Homo sapiens: one gene and its partner. The protein of the gene in region 2 interacts with the protein of the main gene of each other region in a biochemical or structural test. Each region holds a gene or a part of one and is shown on either strand. Other genes may lie near its edges.

Region 1 (8,006 bases), on a different chromosome or scaffold from region 2:
CAAGAGAATCAGACTGTCCTTTGAAGCCAGGCATTGACCTTTCTCTAGCTATGAAAGTCCTAGATAGTATTTTTTTTTCCATATAAGGCTGTTTCATTTACATTGAAAGTCTGTTGTTTAGTGTGGCCACCTTCATCAATTATTTTAGCTATATGTTCTGCATAACTTGCTGCAGCTTCTTCATCAACACTTACTGCCTCACCTTACACTTTTACATTACAGAGGTGGCTTCTTCCCTTAAACCTCATGAACTAACCTCTGCCAGTTTCAAACTTTTCTTCTGCAGCTTCCTCACTCTTCACAGAATTGAAGAGAGTTAGTACCTTGCTCCGGATTAGGCTTTCGCTTAAGGGAATGTCATGGATGGTTTGATCTTCTATCCAGACCACTAAAACTTTCTCCCTATCAGCAATAAGGCTGTTTGGCTTATCATTCATGTATTCATTGGAGTAGCATTTTAATTTCAAGAACTCTTCCTCTGCATTCACAACTTGGCTAACTGTCATTCAGCACAAGAGGCCTAGCTTTTGGCCTATCTCAACTTTTGATACGCCTTTCTCACTAAGGATAAACATTTCTTAACTTCACTTAAAGTAAGAGAGATTCAACTGACTGCTCCTTTTGCCTGGACACTGTAGGGTCACTGACTGGCCTAATTTCAATATTGTGTCTCAAGGAATTGAGAGGCCTGAGGAGAGAGACTGGGAACTGCCAGTCAGTGGAGCTGTTAGTACACACCCAACTTTTACCAATTAAGTTCACTGTCTTATATGAGTGCTATTCATGGTAACCCAAAACATTGATCACAGGTCACTATAACAGATGTAACAATGAAAAGGTTTGGGGCTGGGCATGGTGGCTCATGCCTGTAATCCCAGCACTTTGGGAGGCCGAGGCAGGCGGATCACTTGAGGTCAGGCGTTCGAGACCAGCCTGGCCAATATGGTGAAACCCCGTCTCCACTAAAAATACAAAAATTAACTGGGTGTGGTAGTACATGCCTGTAATCCCAGCTACTCCGGAGGCTGAGGCAGGAGAATCACTTGAGCCCAGATGGCAGAGGTTACAGTGAGACCGAGAACACGCCAGTGCACTGCATCCTGGGTGACAGAGTGAGATTCCACCTCAAAAAAAAAAAAAAAAAAAAAGTGTGAAATATTGTGAATTACCCAAACGTGACACAAGAGACACAAAGTGAGCACATGCTGTTGGAAAAATGGCTGGCATTTACAGACTTGCTCGATGAATCCTTGCTATAAACCTTCACCTTGCAAAAAAAAAAAGGCAGTATTTGCAAAACACAATAAAATGAGTTATCTCTTATTCCCTCCATCCTCACCCAGCTACAGGAGGACCACGACTGTTTACTGCTGTATTCCAAGCAGAAAGGTTGGCATACAGGAGACCTCAAAAATACGCTACTTTGATCTTGAGGAGAGTGAAAAATCTTACTCATTTTATGTACAAAGCACAGATGTGCATACATTATATAAAAAGAAATAGTTTACGTATGGCATTAAGATTTCATGAAGATTAGAAAAACAATGTTTACAAAAGGTCCTTACAAAGGTAGTAATTCAAGAAAAGATCAATAAACGATGTGTTAAAGTAAGATTTTTGGAAGCTCAAATTCAGGCAATACAAAAGCCAGCAATATATCTTGCTACTCGAATGCCTCTATTTCACCTCAAACTCACAGATAAAACTGAACCCAATATGTCCTTGTCCATTAAAAAGCAAATCACCAAGAAAGTAACAAAAGATTCCCTTCAATGTCTCTTTTATTGACAGTGGTCCCAAAACTCCTGGTCAATGAATTCAAAACCCAAATCTTGCAGGTAGGACTTAACCTCATCTGCTGCCAAATAGCTGGCTATGTGACCTTGGGCAGACCACTTCACTTTTCTGGACCTCAGTCTCCCCAGTCAGTTGGACAGTCTAAGCCAGGCTCCAGAGCTGAGACCCTACGTCTGGCTCAAGAACTTGGTGCAGAAACAGAACGAAGATTATTAAGTTTGTGAACGTCTATGGGAACTGACAAGTGAAAGACAAAAGCTGAAATCCCTACCAAAACGGCTTGCCCAAGCTCTATCCTTTTCCCTCTTCCCTCGATGGATCAAAGGCGGAAAAGCGGTGTTTACTAGCAACTCTGTTTCGGGTCGTGAGAATCTTCATACACCTGTCTATAGGCGCGCCAGAGCGGTGAAGGGCCCGAGCGGTGCAGGGCTGGGCCGCAAGCCTCACAGTCGCACGTTCCACCAACCACCAGCCGGGGCCCGGAAGCGCGCCCGGAAATCGAGGCCCTACTAAGTTTTAGACTGCGACCTCGGCGCCCCCACGGTCAGGCCCGCACCCGTACTCAGATCCTCCCGACCTACAAAAGGCCCCGCCACGCGGCCCACGCACCCCGGCAAACTCGCAGGCCCCACGATGGCGGGGCGGCGGCGCGAACACACAAAGGAGGCGTCGTCAGCGGGGAACAAAAACCCTGCCCGGGTCTTCCCCCTAACAGCACATCCTGCCCGACTTTCCAAGTGACCTTGGGGGCGTTCCTGCCCCTCCCAGAGTCTCAGTTTCCCTTCCTAGGCTAGGAACTAAGCCCCATGGCCGCGGCCCCCCAGGGTGAGCCGAGACCCAGACGCAGACCTCCTAACTTCTGTTGCCCGCGCCAAGCCGGGCTCGGTGCGCCCGCGCGGACGGCAGTGCGAGCGACCAGAGCTGGCTCGAGGTCCCGGGCTGCAAAGCCTCGGCTGGGTCAAGCCGCGCAGCGCGGCTCCCCCAAGAGGCGCGGGCCGAGGCCTCTGTAGGCCGCGAAGCTGCCTAAACCTCGCATCTGCAAGGCCCTGACTTACCGCTGCTTTCCCGCAAAGCTCGGCCTAACCTGGAGCTAGTTAGGTCCGCAGGCGCCACCGCCGGCGCACTCCGGAGAAGAAGCTCCTTCTTCAGCCGCCCAGGAGAGCTCCTCGAGAAAGATGCCGCCGCCTCAACAGCAACCCACTTCCGCTTCGGAGGCCTCGGCTCCGCCCCCCATCATGTCCCCATTGGCCGCCCGCCTACTCTACTTCCGCGGTCGGCCGGGTAAGGACAAATTTTTTAATCCTATTGGATAAGAAAACCATCTGTTACCACTTTAAAACGCGCCTCTTTCCGCCCCCGCCCACAATCGAGCGCACTAACTCGCACCTTCCGGCAAGAGACGGCGCGGGCGCGCCCCGCCCGCAAGGTTTTTCGGGAGTCACGGTCTGAGGGCGACCCGGGCGACCCGGTCGCCCGTGCCCGGCTGCCACTGACCGCTCCAACGCCGCCAGGGACGACCCGCCAGCTGCCTCCGGAGCCGAGCAGGCCCCGAACCTTCCCATTCCTAGATTTCCAGCCGCACAACAGCCGCGGTGCCCCTGGCTCGACGCAGCTGGCCGGAGGCGCGGAGCTGGTCGTTCGTCCCGCCCGCCGTTCCGCGCCCCTCTCCCGGCTCTTGTTTCCTCGCCTCTTAACGAGGCCTTTGTGAGGAAGGTTGCTGGGCCTTGGGACTCTGACGATCGGCTGGAAACCAGGCCTGGCCCTGTTTCAGCATCCCCGCGTGCCAAGCCCTGGGCCGGCGTGCGGGTCCCTGCCCCTGCGAGGAAGCTGGGACTTTTGCAGGCCTGGGTGGAGACGTGTACATAACAGAGGAAGAGTGTGGAGGATTGGAGGACTCAGGGCAGCACGGCAGAGGTGCATGCAGGTCCCCGGTCGGACTGGAGAATGGGCGGTGGGTTTCTTGAGCTCCAGTCCCTGAGCTCGACTTTGACGTGGGTTTAGCAACCAGGAAAAAAGCCCACCTTGTCCCTGCTGCCTGAGAATACCCAGACCTTAGTCCATGGCCAGCATCTCTGGTCCCTCGGCACCCTCAGGCAACGTGAAGGTCACCCCAAATGCCTTGGGTTACATTGTTTCCTTACAGTGAGTTTGTTTGTTTTAGTGGCGCGATCTCGGCTCACTGCAAGCTCTAACCTCCTGGGTTCACGTGATTCTCCTGCCTCAGCCTCCCGAATAGCTGGGATTACAGGCGCCTGCCACCACGCCCGGCTAATTTTCTTTGTATTTTTAGTAGAGATGGAGTTCCATCATGTTGGCCAGGCTGGTCTCGAGCTCCTGACCTCAGGTGATCCACCCTCCTTGGCCTCCAAAAGTGCTGGGATTACTGGTGTGAGCCACCTCGCCCGGCCACCTTACAGTGAGTTTCTAACCTCGAAAATGGAGTCAAATAACGGAATGACAAGGCAGATAGAAACCAGAGCATTAACGTTTTTGTGTTGCATTTACAAACAATATGTGTTTGCTATTTTTCGTAATTGTAAGGAAATCTGGCATGGTAGAGTATCTGATAGATAAATGTAATTCTCATGTAAAATATCTAAGTATTTGTGTTTTTTGTTTGTTTGTTTGTTTGTTTTGAGACGGAGTCTCGCTCTGTCGCCCAGGCTGGAGTGCAGTGGCGCGATCTCGGCTCACTGCAAGCTCCGCATCCCGGGTTCACGCCATTCTCCTGCCTCAGCCTCCCAAGTAGCTGGGACTACAGGCGCCCGCCACCACGCCTGGCTAATTTTTTTTTTTTTGTATTTTTTAGTAGAGACGGGGTTTCACCGTGTTAGCCAGGATGGTCTTGATCTCCTGACCTCGTGATCCACCCGCCTCGGCCTCCCAAAGTGCTGGGATTACAGGCGTGGGCCACCGCACCCAGTCTTTTTTTTTTTTTTTTTTTTTGAGACGAGGTGTCACTCTGTCAGCCAGGCTGGAGTGCAGTGGCACAATCATGACTCACTCACTGCAGCCTCGACCTCCCCAGGTTTAGATGATCAACCCACCTTGGCCTCCTGAGTAGCTGGGACCACAGGTGTGTGCCACCATGCCTGGCTAATTTTTTTGTATTTTTTTTTTGTAGACACTGGCTTTCGCCATGTTGCCCAGTCTTGTCTTGAAGCCCCGGGCTCAAGTTATCTGCTCACCTCGACCTCCCAAAGTGTTGAGATTACAGGCATGAGCCATCACACCCTGCCCTAAGTATTTGATTTTTGATAGCGACTGTAAGTTGAAAGGTATAACATTTTCCGAAGTTTGTGATTATAATTGGAGCAAAGAGAACTTAAAAGTTTAAAAGAAATGAAGACATTTAATATATCTATGAGAATTATTTAAATATTAATACTTGATAAGGCAGACAACTGAAATGCTAAAAAATAAAATTAGATTCTACGTGTATAAATGCAGTTGAAAATGTTTAAGAGAATTTCAGTTCATAAATGGGGCCGTACATGATTAATCAAAATGGTGGTTAAAAATGATCAGATTTAGGGCGGGCATGGTGGCTCTCACCTGTAATCTTAACACTTTCGGAGGCTGAGGTGGGAGGATTGCTTGAGCTGAGGAGTTTATAGATGAGCCTGGGTAACGTGGTAAAACCCCCTCTCCACACACACACACACAAATAATAATTAGCCGGGTGTGGTGGCATGTCCCTGTGGTCCCAGCTACTCAGGAGGCTGAGGCAGCAGGATTACTTGAGCCCAGGAGGTCATGGCTGCAGTAAGCTGTGATTGCACGTCAGCTTGATTGACAGAATGAGACCCTCTCTCTCTCAAAAAAAAAAAATCAGATTTAGAAAAAGTAATATTAGTAATTTGTATTTTACAGCCTAAGGAAAAGTTAGGGTTTTCTGTTTGTAACTGTAATATATTGAAGATGTGATGTTGAAAAAGTCTCTATAAATACCAGTTTCATGCTCAAAGACTGCCTTCAGCCAGGGCAACATAGTGAGACCTCATCTCTACTAAAAATAAAAAATTAGCTGGGTATGGTGGTAAGTGCATGCAGTCCCAGCTAGTAGGGAGGATGAGGCAAGAGGATCACTTGAGCCCGGGAGTTTAAGGCTGTATGAGCTATCATCACGTCACTGCACTCCAGCCTGGGTGACAAAGCGAGACCCTGCCTCAAAAACAAAAACAAAAGCTGCTTTCAAGTCTTCTCCAAGCCTCACTTGCACTGAACTTGTTCCTTCACAAATAGCGCTTCCCTTGGGCCCTGAACGCCTGCAGCTTAGAGAAAAGACCGGCACCTTGGTGCTCCCATAGTCCCACAAGTCGAAACCAGCTGAATGCAGGTTCCTGGGCCTCACACCAGCTACTAAATCTGTTTCTTCACTATTTCCAAAGAAAGCCCCTGCCCAAGTGGGTCTCAGATGCTATCAACAAGGATCTTCTGACTAGCCTGTACTCAGGCAAAATGTCCACTCCCCAGGCAGTCCAGCCAGGAAAGGTTCAGAGAGGGATTGTCAGCACTAGCTGGGCCATATCTCACTCTGGCTGGCCCCCTTTGGGGGAGTAGCTTGATTCTCTGTAAAGAGCCTATGCAGGGAGGGAAGGCAGGGGCCCCTAGTGTGAAGGCCCTGGGCTCTTAAGGGTGTGCCCCTTAGCTGCCTGTGCAGGGAGGGGAGGCAGGGGCCCCCAGTGTGAAGGCCCTGGGCTCTTAAGGGTGTGCCCCTTAGCTGCCTGTGCAGGGAGGGGAGGCAGGGGCCCCCAGTGTGAAGGCCCTGGGCTCTTAAGGGTGTGCCCCTTAGCTGTTGCTCTGGAACAAACCACCCCAAAGCTTGATACTTTGAATGACAGACATTTATTGTTGCTCATGAATCTATAAGACAGCAGGGTTGGGGGAGGTTCTTGTCCGGCTGCGCTCTCATTTTGTGCTCTGCTAGTCTAGGATGGCCTCTGAGATGGTGTCCTCCACATGGTGTCTGATCCCAGCAGGCCACCCTAGTCATGCTCACATGGGGCCTGGCGAAGGTTCCAAGAGAACAAGTGGGAGCTCCAAGGCCACCTGAGGCCCAGACTCAGAACTGGCACGTGGTCACTTCTGTTGCACCCTATTAGCCAAAGAAAGTCACTAGGCCAGACCAGATGCAAGGGCTGGGGGAATAGACTCCACCTCTCGATGGGAGGTGTAAAGTCACAAGGCAAGGGGCAGGGATACACAGACATTTTGCCATCACTCTATCACACAATGCCTACTCCCAGGCCACAACTTTAGGGAATGGTCCGAGGCCTGCTCCCACCTAGGTTTGTATGAGGAGAGGCCCCACGTGCTCTCAAGCTAGCTCTAAGCGGCTGCTCAGTCCAGGAGGGGGCAGGGGAAGACCTTGTTACCTGCCAACCAACAGTGTTGCCAATAGTACCCTCAATTTGTTAGCTGCCACATCTCCCCTCTGCTCCAGAGGCCAACCTTCTAGGTGAAGGGTAATTCCCCTGCCTTGCCACAGTGCTTGCTTCAGGCACCCATGCAGACCTTCCCTCACTGCAGGAACTGGCTCAGCCCAAGTATGTTCAATTCAGGCCAATGAGACTGGGGCAACTGTTCTTTGTTCCTCAGGCTGGAACTGCTACCAGAGTGGAGACTGAGCTCCTGGATCGGGTACATCCTGAAGTCTGCTGCCTTTGGATTGGCATTATGAGAGCTAATAAATCCCCCTTTGAAACCCCCAGAGCTCAGAGGGGCTTTCTAGGCCAGGCATCATCAATGTATTCCATCAATATCAAATTAAATGGGTTTGGATCACACAACACGGGATATGAGCAATGTTTATTTCTTTTTTTTTGAGATGGAGTTTGACTCTTGTCACCAGGCTGGAGTGGTGCGATCTCAGCTCACTGCAACCTCCGTCTCCTGGGTTCAAGCGACTCCATTCTCTTGCCTCAGCTTCCCGAGTAACTGGGATTACAGGCGCCAGCCACTACGCCCAGCTAATTTTTGTATTTTTAGTAGCGACGGGGTTTCACCATGTTGGCCAGGCTGGTCTTAAACTCCTGACCTCAGGTGATCCACCTGCCTCAGCCTCCCAAAGTGCTGGGATTACAGGTTTGAGCCCCCTTGCCTGGCCAATGTTTATTTCTTTAAATGAAATTTAATCTGCTCCCAGCTGCAATTCTACAGAGATGTGGAAATTCTTCTCCTTACCTACCTGGGTGGTAAAATCCTGG
Region 2 (7,018 bases):
ACCCGGGAGGTGGAGCTTGCCGTGAGCCAAGATTGCGCCACTGCACTCCAGCCTGGGCGACAGAGCAAGACTCCGTCTGAAAAAAAAACAAAAACAAAAACAAAAACTGTAGTGGTTGGGCATGGGGTCTAACACCTGAAACCCCAACACTTTGGGAGGCCAAGACAAGGGACTGAGGCCAGAAGTTCGAGACCAAACTGGTCAACATGGTGAGACCCCACCTCTAATTTAAAAATAATAAAAATTTGGCCGGGCACAGTGGCTCAAGCCTGTAATCTCAGCACTTTGGGAGGCCAAGGCAGGCAGATCACCTGAGGTCGGGAGGTGGAGACCAGCCTGACCAACATAGAGAAACCCCTTCTCTACTAAAAATACAGAATTAGCCAGGTATGATGGTAGATGCTTGTAATCCCAGCTTTTCCGGAGGCTGAGGGAGGAGAATCAGTTGAACCCGGGAGGCGGAGGTTGCAGTGAGCTGAGATCATGTCATTGGTCTCCAGTTGGGGCAACAAGAGCGAAACTCCATCTCAAAAATAAACATTTTTAAAAAATTAAAAAGGGGCTGGGCATAGTGGCTCACGCCTGTAAACCCAGCACATTGGGAGGCTAAGGCAGATAGATCACTTAAGATCAGGGGTTTGAGCCCGGCCTGGACAATATGGCGAAACACTCTCTATAAAAAATACAAGAATTAGCTGTGGTGGCATGCACCTGCGGTTCTAGCTACTCACGAGGCTGAGCAGGGAGGATCTCTTAAGACCTGGAGGTGGAGGTTGCAGTGAGCCAAGATCACACCATTGCACCACTCCAGACTAGGCAACAGAGGCATAACCTCTTTCAAAAAGACCTAAGACGGGAGGCTGAGGCAGGAGAATGGCGTGAACCCGGGAGGCGGAGCTTGCAGTGAGCCAAGATTGTGCCACTGCACTACAGCCTGGGAGACGGAATGATGCTCCATCTCAAAAAACCACCACCAAAAGAAACCCTAAGAAACAAAAATTAAAATAATAAAGACTGTAGTGACCTGTATATTTAAGGTTCTGAGGATGGATATATATAGATATTTTCTGTCCCTCAATATTCTTGAATAGGCCAGGCGTGGTGGCTCATGCCGTAATCCCTGCACTTTGGGAGGCTGAGGCGGGTGGATCACCTAAGGTCAGGAGTTCGAGACCAGCCTGGCATACGTGATAAAACCCTGTCTCGACTAAAAATAGAAAAAAAATTAGCTGGGCGTGGTGGCATGCACCTATGACCCCCCAGCTACTCAGGAGGCTGAGGTTGCAGTGAGCTGAAATTGCACCACTACACTCCAGCCTGGGCAACAAGAGGAAAACTCCGTCTCAAAAAAAAAATCCTTGAATAAGGAACGAAAACTTTATTTTAGGTTAGGGAGTATTTACTTATGATAAGTGCAGGCTAGAATGGTTCAGTGTTTTATCAGCAACAAAGGCAAAATCAGAACTTTTTCCTTGCCACATGTGCTACCCTATACCCTATGCTCCGTGCCTCACTTAATATACAGAAAATACCTGGAAATCCACGATACTATGGCCCAATTTTTCTGCTAGTATACTTGCATATTAACATGGGACCTAGAGAAACTTTTGGAACAAGGTGATATTTATAAAACTGTTATTCTTTGTTTGGCATCAGTATCAGTCTGTCAGAAACACCAAGTAGCTTTATTTCCTTCTTGAAATGTTACTTCTAAGCAGGCCTATTTATGTTTTTTCTAAGCCTCAATTTTCTATTTAATATTTCTCAGAATAAAGAAAACAGCTCATTTTAAACAAGAAGTTTATTTAAACAACAAGACGCTTGACTTGAAGGGAAAACTATCTAGGATTCTTTTTTGTTTTAGAGTAATTTATCCCTACTTAAAGACAGATTGCCCTACATGTAACAGCTACGTACAAAAAAGTTATAAAATTGTCCTTGGTTTTACAATGATAAATGAAAAACATTAAAATTCTCCAATTGAACAAGGTATGCAAGGATTTTTATGTTGTTGTTTTTTTTTTTTGTTAAAACAGTGAGAGCAAAATAACTTACTGGAATATAAAGATAAGAGCTGAATGAGCATGCCACTAATGGAGAAAGGGGGTATTTTCACAGAATCAGTATTTTTCCCCATCCCGTCTCCACTTGATGTCAATCAAAACATACCATTGGCTGTTTAGTTAAAAAAAAAAAAAATGCAATATGCTTGTGCACATATACCAGTTACTTTATGTACAATAAAGGAATGGGGAAGGGGGAAATGAAAGAATAGAGAAAACTATACGGTAGTAGTCAGGATGTGGTGGAACCAAATTGCAGTTTTCTAATTGAGAATGTAATCTTGGTCTTTAAAGAACAGAGTTCTGGAGTAAAGAAGCAGGTTCCCTTTTCAGTAGACACCTCCCGTCTGCTGTTGGAACACATCAATTGTATCTTCATCCTCCATTTCCAACTAGCATAAAAGAAAAAACAAATGTAAAAGCACTGATTAAGTTCTGAAAATTAATGATTTTTGGGTTTAAGTATGCTGAAAACATGTACATGTTCCACTAAGTTCCAAGTTTCATTATTTTAGATGTCTCATAGCTTAATGTATCAACACACTTGGTTTAAGTAATTTTTCACTTGGCTTCCTTTTTTATGACTATTAGATAAAACTTTTTTGTTTTTTTTTTGAGACAGGATTTCTGTCACCCAGGCTGGACTGCAGTGGCGTGATCTCAGCTCACTGCAACGTCCACCCCTCAGGTTCAAGCAATTCTCCTGCCTCAGTCTCCCAAGTAGCTGAGATTACAGGCATCCGCCACCATGCCCAGCTAATTTTTTTGTATTTTTAGTAGAGATGGGGTTTCGTCATGTTGGCCAGGCTGGTCTCAAACTCCTGAGCTCAAGTGATCTGCCTGCCTCGGCCTCCCAAAGTGCTGGGATTACAGGTGTGAGCCACTGCGCCCAGCCAAAACTTAGTTTTTGAGTAAAAAGCAGAATATTAGCCAGGTGCGGTGGCTCATGCCTGTAATCCCAGTACTACTGGAGGCCAACATTGGAGGATTGCTTGAGCCCAAGAGACCGAGACCACCTGGGCAACATAGGGAGACAACATCTCTACAAAAAAAAAAAGGAAAAAAAAAAAAAATTAGCCAGCCATGGTGACACATGTCCATACTCCCAGCTACTCAGGAAGCCGAGGTGGGAGGATCAATTGAGCCCATAAGATCAAGGCTGCAGTGAACTGAGACCACACCAGCTCACTCCAGCCTGAGTGACAAAGCAAAAGATCCTGTATCAAAAAAAGAGAAAAAAAGGCTAGGGCCACGCACAATGGCTCACTCCTGTAATCTCAACACTTTGGGAGGCTGAAGTGGGCGGGTCACCTGAGGTCAGGAGTTCAAGACCAGCCTGGCCAACCTGGTGACACCCCATCCCTATTAAAAAAAAATTTTTTTTTTTTTTTTGAGACGGAGTCTCCCTGTGTCGCCCAGGCTGGAGTCCAGTGGCAGGATCTCAGCTCACTGCAAGCTCCGCCTCCTGGGTTCACGCCATTCTCCTGCCTCAGCCTCCCGAGTAGCTGGGACTACAGGTGCCCGCCACAACGCCTGGCTAATTTTTTGTATTTTTAGTAGAGACGGGGTTTCACCGTGTTAGCCAGGACAGTCTAGATCTCCTGACCTCATGATCCACCCTCCTCGGCCTCCCAAAATGCTGGGATTATAGGCGTGAACCACTGCACCCGGCCTAAAAATATTTTTTAAATTAGCCGGGCATGGTGGCATGTGCCCGTAATCCCAGCTATTCGGGAGGCTGAGGCAGGAGAATCGCTTGAACCCAGGAAGCAGAGGTTGTGGTGAGCCAAGATTGTGCCACTGGACTCCAACACCGGTGACAGAGTGAGACTTGGTCTCAAAAAAAAAAAAAAAGGTGGGGGGGGGCGGGTGTGGCAGCTCACACCTGTAATCTCAACACTTTGGGAGGCCGAGGCAGGCAGATCACCTGAGGTCGGGAGTTCAAGACCAGCCTGGCCAAAATGGTGAAACCCAGTCTCTACTAAAAATACAAAAAACAAAACAAAAAAATTAGCTGGGCGTGGTGGCGCACGCCTGCACGCCTGTAATCCCAGCTACTTGGGAGGCTGAGGCAGGAGAATCACTTGAACCCAGGAGGTGGAGGTTGCAGTGAGCCAAGATCATGCCATTGCATGTGACAAGAAACTGTCTCAAAAAAATTAAATAAATGAAAGCTGAATATGTCTGTGTCGAGGGCCCACAGAAGGGTGATATGTTTAAAGAATCTCGCTGCACTGCTTAGCAAAGACTGAAAACAAATCTCAATAAAAACCCAAATTAGGCTGGGCGCCGGGGCTCACGCCTATAATCCCAACACTTTGGGAGGCCAAGGTGGGCGGATCACCAGGTCAACAGGTCAAACCCATCCTGGCCAACATGGTGAAACCCTGTTTCTACCAAAAATACAAAAATTAGCTGGGTGTGGTTGCGCACGCCTGTAGTCCCAGCTACTCGGGAGGCTGAGGCAGGAGAATCACTTGAACCCGTGAAGTGGAGGTTACAGTGAGCTGTGATTGCCCCACTGCACTCCAGCCTGGCAACAGAGCAAGACTCTGTCTCAAAAAACAAAAACAAAAACAAAAAACACCAAAACAAAAAACCCACGGCAGGCGTGGTGGCTCACAAGGTCAGTCATTCGAGACCAGCCTGGCCAACATAGTGAAACCCCGTCTCTACTAAAAATACAAAAAATTAGCTGGGCATGGTGGCAGGTGCCTGTAATCCCAGCCACTCAGGAGGCTGAGGCAGGAGAATCACTTGAACCTGGGAGGTGGAGGTTATAGTGAGCTGAGATCACGCCACTGCACTCCAGCCTGGGTGACAGTGCGAGACTCCAGGTCTCAAAAAAAAAAAAAAAAAACCCAAATTAATAAAACATAGTATGCTCAGATATTAAATACCATATAGCCGTTAAAAAATAAGATTTTCATGTACAGAAATGAAAATATCTTTAAGATACAGTAGATACAGTGTTAGGCTAAAAACACAATTTTAAAACTAAGCAGCAGCCAACTCGGTGCACTGACTATATAAGTTAGCCATGCTCTGTAAGGGGCAGTTAAAAAAAAAAAAAAGTACACCCCAAGGAGCAAAGCAGCTTATTGTATGACTACATTTGTGTTTTTCTATTTTTTCTTGCGATGGAGTTTCGCTGTTGTTGCCCAGGGTGGAGTGCAATGGCGCAATCTTGGCTCACTGCAACCTCTGCCTCCCGGGTCAAGCAATTCTCCTGCCTCAGCCTCCCAAGTAGCTGGGATTACAGGCATGCGCCATCATGCCCAGCTAATTTTGTACTGACTCCGTCAATACAGAAAATAAAATAAAAACAACATAAACAAATAAAATAAAAACAAAATTAGCCAGGCATCATGGTGGGCGCCTGTAATCCCAGCTACTCGGGAAGCTGAGGCAGGAGAATCGCTTGAACCCAGGAAGCAGAGGTTGCAGTGAGCTGAGATCACGCCACTGCACTCCAGTCTGGGAGACAGGGCAAAACTCCGTCTCGAAAAATAAAAAAATAAAAAAAAGCTGGGGAGGCAGGAGGCCTGCTAAGATGTTTTAATTTATCACAATCCTGCTATCTAACAAATATTGGGAGAATAATTCTAAAACGAATCAATTCCAAATTCTTCAAAATGAAGTAAAATGAATTGCAAATTCAACCTGAAGATTTTAAAATGCCTCAAGGTCACGGATCCAAACAAATAACTCCTTGTTTAATATTTGTAACTACTATAGCAGATAATCCCGTTTTAGTGGTGGGTAAGGAGGGCTTAAAGACAGGAAATACATTCTAATAACTGAGAGTACAGCACAATAGATACTTTTTACTATTTCTTTTAAAACCAAACAAGCCTGTCATCTATCTACTAAAACAAAATTATCCAAATGTGAAGTTTTACAGTGAAACTGTAAATGCCTTTAAAAAATGAGGTTCCTGTACCAGCCTCATTTATCAATAGAATTTAGCTCCTCCTTGTGGCTACATACCATAATTGCGCCTTTTTTTTTTTTTTTGACAGGGTTTCACTCTTTCACCCAAGCTAGAGTGAAGTGGCATGACCTCCGCGCTCACTGCAACCTCGACTGTCTGACACCTTTCCCCCGCCCAGATTCTCCTGGCTCAATCTCCCGAGTAGCTGGGATGGGATTACAGGTGAGCACCACCATGCCCGGCTAATTTTTGTATTTTTAGTAGAGACGGGGTAGTTTCGCCATGTTGGCCAGGCTGGTCTTGAACTGCTGACCTCAGGTGATCAACTTGCCTTGGCCTCCCAAAGTGCTAGGATTACAGTCGTGAGCTACTGTACCCAGACTTTTTTTTTTTTTTTTTTGAGACAGGGGCTGTTACCCAGGCTGGAGTGCAGTGGCACTATCTCTGCTGACTTTAATCTCCGCCTCTCGGGTTCAGGTGATTCTCCTGCCTCAGCCTCCTGAGTAGCTGGGACTACAGGCGTGCACCATCATGCCTGGCTAAATTTTTTTTTTTTTTTTTTGAGTTTCGCTCGTTACCCATGCTCGAGTGCAATGGCGTGATCTCCGGCTCACTGCAACCTCTGCCTCCTGGGTTCAAGCGATTCTCCTGCCTCAGCCTCCCGAGCAGCTGGGATTACAGGCCACCACACCCAGCTAATTTTGTATTTTTAGTAGAGACGGGGTTTCTCCATGTTGGTCGGAGTGGTCTCAAACTCCCAACCTCAGGTGATCCGCCCACCTCGGCCTCCCAAAGTGCTGGGATCACAGGCATGAGCCACTGCGCCCGGCGATGCCTGGCTAATTTTTGTATTTTTTGGCAGACACGGGGTTTCACCATATTGTCCAGGCTGGTCTCAAACTCCTGACCTCAAGCAATCTGCCTGCCTCAGCCTCCTGAAGTGCTAGGATGACAGGTGTGAACAAGTGCACCTGGCCCGTAATTCCTTTTGAGAGACTGTCACCAGTTGAAATGTCTTCAA

What was found.
Region 1: the proteins of SUMO2 (region 2) and RNF4 form a complex in vitro, tested with the Homo sapiens proteins (15 studies listed by BioGRID, with this or other methods).

The regions. Positions count from the first base shown.
Region 1 is NC_000004.12:2,464,105-2,472,110, reverse strand, and holds the start of RNF4 (E3 ubiquitin-protein ligase RNF4), read right to left. Parts: upstream 3,006-8,006; 5' UTR 2,853-3,005; intron 2,659-2,852; exon of another isoform or gene 2,069-2,658; intron 1,125-2,068; exon of another isoform or gene 1,002-1,124; intron 1-1,001. UniProt on the Homo sapiens protein: E3 ubiquitin-protein ligase which binds polysumoylated chains covalently attached to proteins and mediates 'Lys-6'-, 'Lys-11'-, 'Lys-48'- and 'Lys-63'-linked polyubiquitination of those substrates and their subsequent targeting to the proteasome for degradation.
Region 2 is NC_000017.11:75,165,947-75,172,964, forward strand, and holds part of SUMO2 (small ubiquitin-related modifier 2 isoform a precursor), read right to left. Parts: intron 2,456-7,018; coding exon 2,393-2,455; 3' UTR 1-2,392. UniProt on the Homo sapiens protein: Ubiquitin-like protein that can be covalently attached to proteins as a monomer or as a lysine-linked polymer.